2 separate regions of the Homo sapiens genome follow, and region 1 is reported to be linked to region 2. Evidence: microRNA targets listed by miRTarBase, many of them from high-throughput screens and not tested one by one. Region 2 holds a microRNA gene; the other region holds the end of a gene's coding sequence.
Evidence for each region. The annotated mature microRNA hsa-miR-6892-3p reads UCCCUCUCCCACCCCUUGCAG and lies in region 2 at 1,976-1,996, shown strand. An mRNA with a match to its seed (bases 2 to 7 or 8) in the 3' UTR can be bound and repressed. Matches are read on the target gene's strand: a 7mer-m8 pairs with bases 2 to 8, a 7mer-A1 pairs with bases 2 to 7 and ends in A, and an 8mer does both.

Region 1 (3,397 bases), not on the chromosome of region 2:
AGCGCTTCCTGCCAACAGAATAACTGCCCCATCCCTGAGCCAAAACCCCGAACTTACATGGACCTAAGGGCAGTATCAAAAGTGAGATTTCTAGGATACATGTACAACAAAAGAAAAAATAAATAAAAATTGGACATCATCAAAATTAAAAGCTTTAGTATTTCAAAGGACATCATCAAGGAAATGAAACAGCTCACGGAGAAAAATTTTATAATCATATACCAGTTAAAGGGACTTGTGCCAGGCTATAAAAGGACTCTTACAACTCAATAATAAAAAGACAAATAACCCAATTAAAAAATGAGCAAGTGATCTAAAGATAGCTGTCCTAAGAAGATATGCAAATGGCCAATAAGCTCATGAAAAGATGCTCAATATCATTCGCCATCAGGGAAATGCAAACCAAAATCACAATGAGATGCCACATTACCCCTACTAGGATGGCTAAGTTAAAAGATAGATAATAAAAAGCACTGAGGGATGTGGAGTCATCAGAACCCTCATGCCCTGTTGATGGGATATAAAATTGTGTCACCACATTGGAAAACAGTTTGGGAGTCCCTCAAGGGTTAAATAGAGTTTCATATGATCCAGCAAATCTGCTCCCAGGCATATACCAAAGAGAAATGAAAACATATGTCCACACAAAAACTCATACACAAAAGTTCCTAGCAGCATTATGTATAATAGTCAAGAAGTAGAAACGATCCAAATGTCCACCAATCGATGCATGATAAATAAAATGTAGTACTACCATTCCATACAATGGAATATTACCCGATGAAAAAATAAAGTTGAACACATGCTACAACATGGATGAACTTTGCTTATAAGAACATTGAAAAGAAAATGCCAAAAGAAAAATGAGTTTTAGCTCAAATTTTTTTTTAAGAGGCCTAGCCTGCTCAAGTTATCCTGTTAAAAAAAAAAAAAAAAAAAAAACTCTTCCCATATCTAAGGTGAAAATAAAAAACATTTTTAAAAGTTTAATATAAAGAATGAAATAATTTCAGGTCAAGTTTATTATACAGAAATTATATTAATGGGTGGGATAAATACTTTACAGGAGAGGGTCACACTCTCAGACACTTTGGCTCCCAAAGGGCTTGGAGCTTTTGTGAGGCTGAGCATCTTCCAACCAGGTGCATGCACTGGTTTGCCAACATCCTCACCACGCCCAATCCAGCCCCTTCACACACTGACATCGCCTACCTGGGCCCTCCTTGTGGCCTTAAGTTTTATCTAACCAGTGTACACAACATATTTATAACCAATTAATACGTGTGAGTCATGATTTGTTTAAAATGTCAGCTTTTGTGAACTGAAGGGGATGGGCAGAAGGCAGGATGCTGTCCTTGGTCAGGAATGTGACCCAGATTTTAACACTGCTCCTAGGAAAAAAAAATATTTCCTTTTATGATGCCACTTCCTGGGACATGATGAGCTGAAGATTAAAAACTCTTCAGAGATGTGCGAGAAAAAACAAGCCCAGGGAAAAGTCTGCAGGCATGGTGGAGGAAGAAATTAGGGATGAAATCGCAAGTGGCAGAGCAAGCATGACCAGGCTGAAGTCAGCAGAGACAAGAGGGCAGCGAGGCCCAGCCTCCTCTTCCCTCTCCCACAGCGTTTAGGGCCACGTCCATGGCGCCACCCCTCTCCTTTCTTCCCAACTGAAAAGGGTGCCCTCTTTCCTTCTTTTCTGCAGACGCTGATGAGAATTAACCAGAGGAACTTCCTCCACAGCAACTATAACAGGACATCCTCATCCAGTCCTCCTATCTCATTTCCTGGTGGGGAAACAGGCCTGGCAAGGAAATAGGCCGAAATCACGATTTAAAAAATGTTGTGTTTAAGTACTCTGGAACCCTGTGTTCAGAGGAAATCGTGCAAGAATAGATCAATCAGAGCTGATCTGATGGAGACGGAGGATCCAGCCACACAGAGGCCCTGCATTAACTGTATTTCCTGTACTCTTGATGCTCTGGTATCTGGGGCCTCGCTGACCTGGACAGACTGATCCTCCCAGGCTAGCCAATCCCCCAATCCCTAGAGATGGCAAGCATCTGGCTGAAAGCATGCCTTTCCTATGGAAACCAACTAATCCGGAGCGATGGCGCCAGCTGCCTCCTTCACATGGCTCTCCCAGGGCTGTCACACCCCAGGCCAACATTCACCTGTCCTGACTATCCCGGGGCCAGGTATCAGACAAAAAGGGCAGCCCCTATCCTGAGAGCCACTGAAATTACTCAAGCCAGCTACCCTTAAACCTGTCTCCCCTGCTTACTCTGCCTTGCCCATTTCCTCCTGAGGAAACCAGAGGAAGTCTCTTGCCCACACGTTCCCCTCCCTCCTTCCGCCTTCTGACCCACCGTGGGGCTTTCCTATGTGGCCCCTCCTCTCAGAACCGTAAGTAACAAACTCTCCTTTCCATGGCAGTCCCCTCCTCATCCAATGGCTTTACCACACCTCGATGAGATGGTTTACAACAGGCCCATTCTAGAAGTAAACATTATTCCCAGAAATCCTGGAATAGGGATTCAGAAAATTCACATTGTGGAGGTGCCACGACTCGGGAGAGCCTGGCCAGCGAGGTGCCACCCGAATAGCTCCTGACCATGGGCACAGAAGGGACCAAACATGGAGAGAGGCACAGCCTGGAGTCATGGAAAAGGACCAGGCAGGACAGGAGGAAGAGCCTGGCAAGGAGGCAGGGGCGCAATAGTGCCCAAGCAGTGTGGGCATTAGGAAGAGGGCAGAAAGAAAACAGTGCTGTGGCACAAGACCGGGGCAGCCCCGGGCCAGCTCAGCCATCCAGTTCTTCCTTGACACTGATGTGCAAGGGGCAGATGCGCAAAGGCTCTGGAGGCCCGGCGCCCCGTGCACCCCCCAGGTAGAAGTAGGGGCGAACCTCCCCAAAGCGGGCGTGGAAGGTGTACAGGTGGCAGTGGCGCTCCGCGTCATAGAAAGACAGCTCGCCCTCCTCACACTCCAGCTCCACACGCAGGCGGCGTGGGATGGCCAGGACCAGGGGCGACGTGGCTGGGTCCGAGGTCACGCAGTGGTCCCCCTCCACGCCCTGCGTGCGGCAGACATACCAGAAGCCCGAGCGTGTGTCGTGGTAGCAGCTGTGTGAGTGGCCCTCAGCGCCCGAGTCCTGGCGCACACGTACCACGCCCACCCTCCAGCTCTGCAGCCCCCCAAGGGCCACCTCCCAGGCGTGCGAGCCCTGTGAGAAGACACGGGAGCCCAGCAGGCAGGGCGCCGAGGAGAAGCGTTCCGGGTTCTCCACCTGCACGCGGTAGCCATGGTTGGTGACGCTGGTGAGGTCGTCAGACACGGAGAGCCAGCCAGCTGCGGTGTTGGGGTCAAAGCTGAAGGGTACTGCAAGCAGAGGCGG
Region 2 (3,397 bases):
CTCCATACGTTCGGCCACCCCAGGCGGACTCGGGGTGGCCGGGTAGCGGGTGGTGGCAGGAGGGGACCGGGTAACGGCAGGCCCGAGAGGAGGTCGCTGGGCCGGGCCGGAGGCGCACAGGGGCTGCGTGGCTACCTCGGCGGCACCCGCCCCACCTCCGCCGGCTAAGCCCGGAGGGGGACGGTGAGTCAGATCTCGGGCACCCGCGGGTCGGGCGGGGAGGGGGAGGCAGGTCAGGAAATGACATCAGAGGCCTGTGCTCAGGGAGTGGGGGTCTGAGCCGGGCTGGGGCGGCGGGGGCGGCAGTGAGTGGGGTGGGGGCGAGCGGACCTCGGCGGAGCCTCCGGCCTGAGGCAGGATCAGGGCCCCTTCCTGGGGGAGTTTCCTGCCTGGTCCGCCCTTCCCCGCTCTCCCCGCCCCCTCTCCGGGCCGCTCCTTGTATGGTCTGGGCGCCGCTCTCTCCCCGCCCCCTCTCTTCTCCCTCCCTCCTCCTTCCGTGTGTCCCTCCCCGCCCGGCTGGAGGCTGCTCCGGACCGGGACGCAGAGTCTGCGGACCCGGCGCCGAGGCGGCCACCCGAGACGCGGCGCGCACGCTCCGGCCTGCGGTGAGGCGCGGGGAGCGGCAGGGCGGCCCCACGGGGAGGGGGCGCGGGGCGCCGGGAGGGGGCGAGTGGGGGTCACCAAGGGGAGCTGGGACCGCCTGGGGCTCCTGAGCCCGGCTCCGCGCTGCGTAACCCGGCGACCCACCCCAGCAGCCCGGCCCGGCCATGGCGGCCCCCCGCCCGTCTCCCGCGATCTCCGTTTCGGTCTCGGCTCCGGCTTTTTACGCCCCGCAGAAGAAGTTCGGCCCTGTGGTGGCCCCAAAGCCCAAAGTGAATCCCTTCCGGCCCGGGGACAGCGAGCCTCCCCCGGCACCCGGGGCCCAGCGCGCACAGATGGGCCGGGTGGGCGAGATTCCCCCGCCGCCCCCGGAAGGTATGCGGCGGGGCTTGGGGAATGTACCCCGGCAGGAGCCGGGGTGGGGGGCAGTCGTTTCGGGAATTTGGGGATGTCTGGAAAGGTTGTTGCCGAGGGGGCTGGGCGCAGCCACCCTGTCCCGAGCAGATGTTCTTACCTCATCGTGGAGCTCGTGGCTGGGAGCCAGGGCTCCTGGGACCGTTCCAAGTCCCCCGCCTGGGAGTGGGAGTCGGGAATGTGGGGCACGAATCTTCCCCTCCGGGTCCGTTTTCCGAAGTGTAACGGGAGCTGCACCACTCCTCGGCAGTGCGCCCGGCCTTTCCTGACCTGGTACTCCCAGGGCGCCCTGCGCCCCTCCTTTGCTTCCCCACACGCTCTGGGACCCCTGAGAGAGTTCTTGGGTTAGGGGTTAGAGCGGTTAACTGAGGGGAGCTTGGGTGAGGGGTAGAGGGACCCCGGCCGACGTCTTTCTCCTTCCTACCCCAGACTTTCCCCTGCCTCCACCTCCCCTTGCTGGGGATGGCGACGATGCAGAGGGTGCTCTGGGAGGTGCCTTCCCGCCGCCCCCTCCCCCGATCGAGGAATCATTTCCCCCTGCGCCTCTGGAGGAGGAGATCTTCCCTTCCCCGCCGCCTCCTCCGGAGGAGGAGGGAGGGCCTGAGGCCCCCATACCGCCCCCACCACAGGTACGGAGGCCTGGGAGGGGCGGCTGCACTGGACACCCCCAAGGAGAGGAGAAGAGGGCCCTTTCTTCTTACCTCCCCTGCACCTCTGCCTTGGGGGTGGGGGGATAGAGGCATGGAATAGGTGCTCTGACCTCTGACCCTCTAGCCCAGGGAGAAGGTGAGCAGTATTGATTTGGAGATCGACTCTCTGTCCTCACTGCTGGATGACATGACCAAGAATGATCCTTTCAAAGCCCGGGTAAGGGACCGGAGAGTAGGAAAAGCAGGGCTCAGGGCCAGAGAGACTGGGCATAGAACTAAGGAGGATGGTGTCCTCCTGACTGCATCTCTCTTCCCTCTCCCACCCCTTGCAGGTGTCATCTGGATATGTGCCCCCACCAGTGGCCACTCCATTCAGTTCCAAGTCCAGTACCAAGCCTGCAGCCGGGGGCACAGCACCCCTGCCTCCTTGGAAGTCCCCTTCCAGCTCCCAGCCTCTGCCCCAGGTTCCGGCTCCGGCTCAGAGCCAGACACAGTTCCATGTTCAGCCCCAGCCCCAGCCCAAGCCTCAGGTCCAACTCCATGTCCAGTCCCAGACCCAGCCTGTGTCTTTGGCTAACACCCAGCCCCGAGGGCCCCCAGCCTCATCTCCGGCTCCAGCCCCTAAGTTTTCTCCAGTGACTCCTAAGTTTACTCCTGTGGCTTCCAAGTTCAGTCCTGGAGCCCCAGGTGGATCTGGGTCACAACCAAATCAAAAATTGGGGCACCCCGAAGCTCTTTCTGCTGGCACAGGCTCCCCTCAACCTCCCAGCTTCACCTATGCCCAGCAGAGGGAGAAGCCCCGAGTGCAGGAGAAGCAGCACCCCGTGCCCCCACCGGCTCAGAACCAAAACCAGGTGAGGGATGGTGATAGGACAAGGCTTGGTACCAGGGCACTGGGGCGGGGCTGGGTCAGGAGCCAGAGCATAAGCATAAGGTGATTGGAGAGTCAGGGTGGACACGGGGGTTGCGGGGTGGCGGGATAGGAATTTTCATCCTCTGGGGTTAGCCTGGTGGAACAATGGTAGGAAAATGCTCCTCTGGAGGAGAGGCCTGGCTGGGTGTGGGGCTGGGTGGGGCCTGGCTGGGACGGCGCAGAGAGCATGGGCTCTGAATTAGGAGGATCTGGTGGACCTTTCCTTGTGCCTTTACCCCAGAAAGTTAAAGGGAGGGATGAGATCACCAGTTCCACCTTGGTTTTTCCCATTCTTGGGTCTTGAGTTAATCTCCCTGCTCCTCTGAGCACTCTTTCTGCCTGAGGGCTTGGAGGTAAGAGACAGCCCCAGTAAACACTGGTTGAGCCAGCATCCACCACGTGCCAGGCACTGTGCTCTGTGCCCAGGAGGGTAGGACATGGGAGGGAAGAGATCTCTGCAAGAAGCTCAGCCTTCAGGTGTCAGATGGACCTGGAATGGAATTCTTGGCTCAGCTTCTCCCAAGTCCTTAGACTGGGCAAGTTAGGTGAACCCTGAGCCTCAGTTTCTCAATCTTTAACATTCTCTACTCCATACAGTGGTTGTGAAGATTGGGTGAGCTAATACCTAGAGAGTGTTGGGTTCTGTATCTAGTACAGGAATGCTCAAAATAGAAAAGCTGTAATTACAAAATGGTTCTTGCCTTCTAGTTCAGGAAATAAGATCGTCCAATTTCTGGTGACGAAGATGACCCTGATGGTCATCTAGTCCAAGCATCCAGAGTCCACTGATAGTGTTGATGTCTACCTACACTCGGACACA

Region 1: miRTarBase lists TRIM35 as a target of hsa-miR-6892-3p. Seed matches in the 3' UTR shown: 7mer-m8 at 1,652-1,658 and 8mer at 1,611-1,618.

What each region holds. Positions count from the first base shown.
Region 1 is chr8:27,284,747-27,288,143 of GRCh38, forward strand. TRIM35 (tripartite motif containing 35) reads right to left here. Exons shown (of 6, transcript NM_171982.5): 6 at 140-3,381. The coding sequence ends at 2,804. Among named protein-coding and RNA genes, the nearest start is that of TRIM35, 25 kb to the right of the region's middle.
Region 2 is chr7:143,380,805-143,384,201 of GRCh38, forward strand. MIR6892 (microRNA 6892) reads left to right here and starts at 1,882; the gene lies at 1,882-1,996. ZYX (zyxin) reads left to right here and starts at 541. Exons shown (of 10, transcript NM_003461.5): 1 at 541-605; 2 at 753-975; 3 at 1,444-1,643; 4 at 1,789-1,881; 5 at 1,997-2,518. The coding sequence starts at 768. FAM131B-AS2 (FAM131B antisense RNA 2) reads right to left here and starts at 221. Exons shown (of 2, transcript NR_161353.1): 1 at 1-221. It also overlaps a transcript of FAM131B not described here. RefSeq lists an enhancer at 1-237 and silencers at 1-980, 1,011-1,060.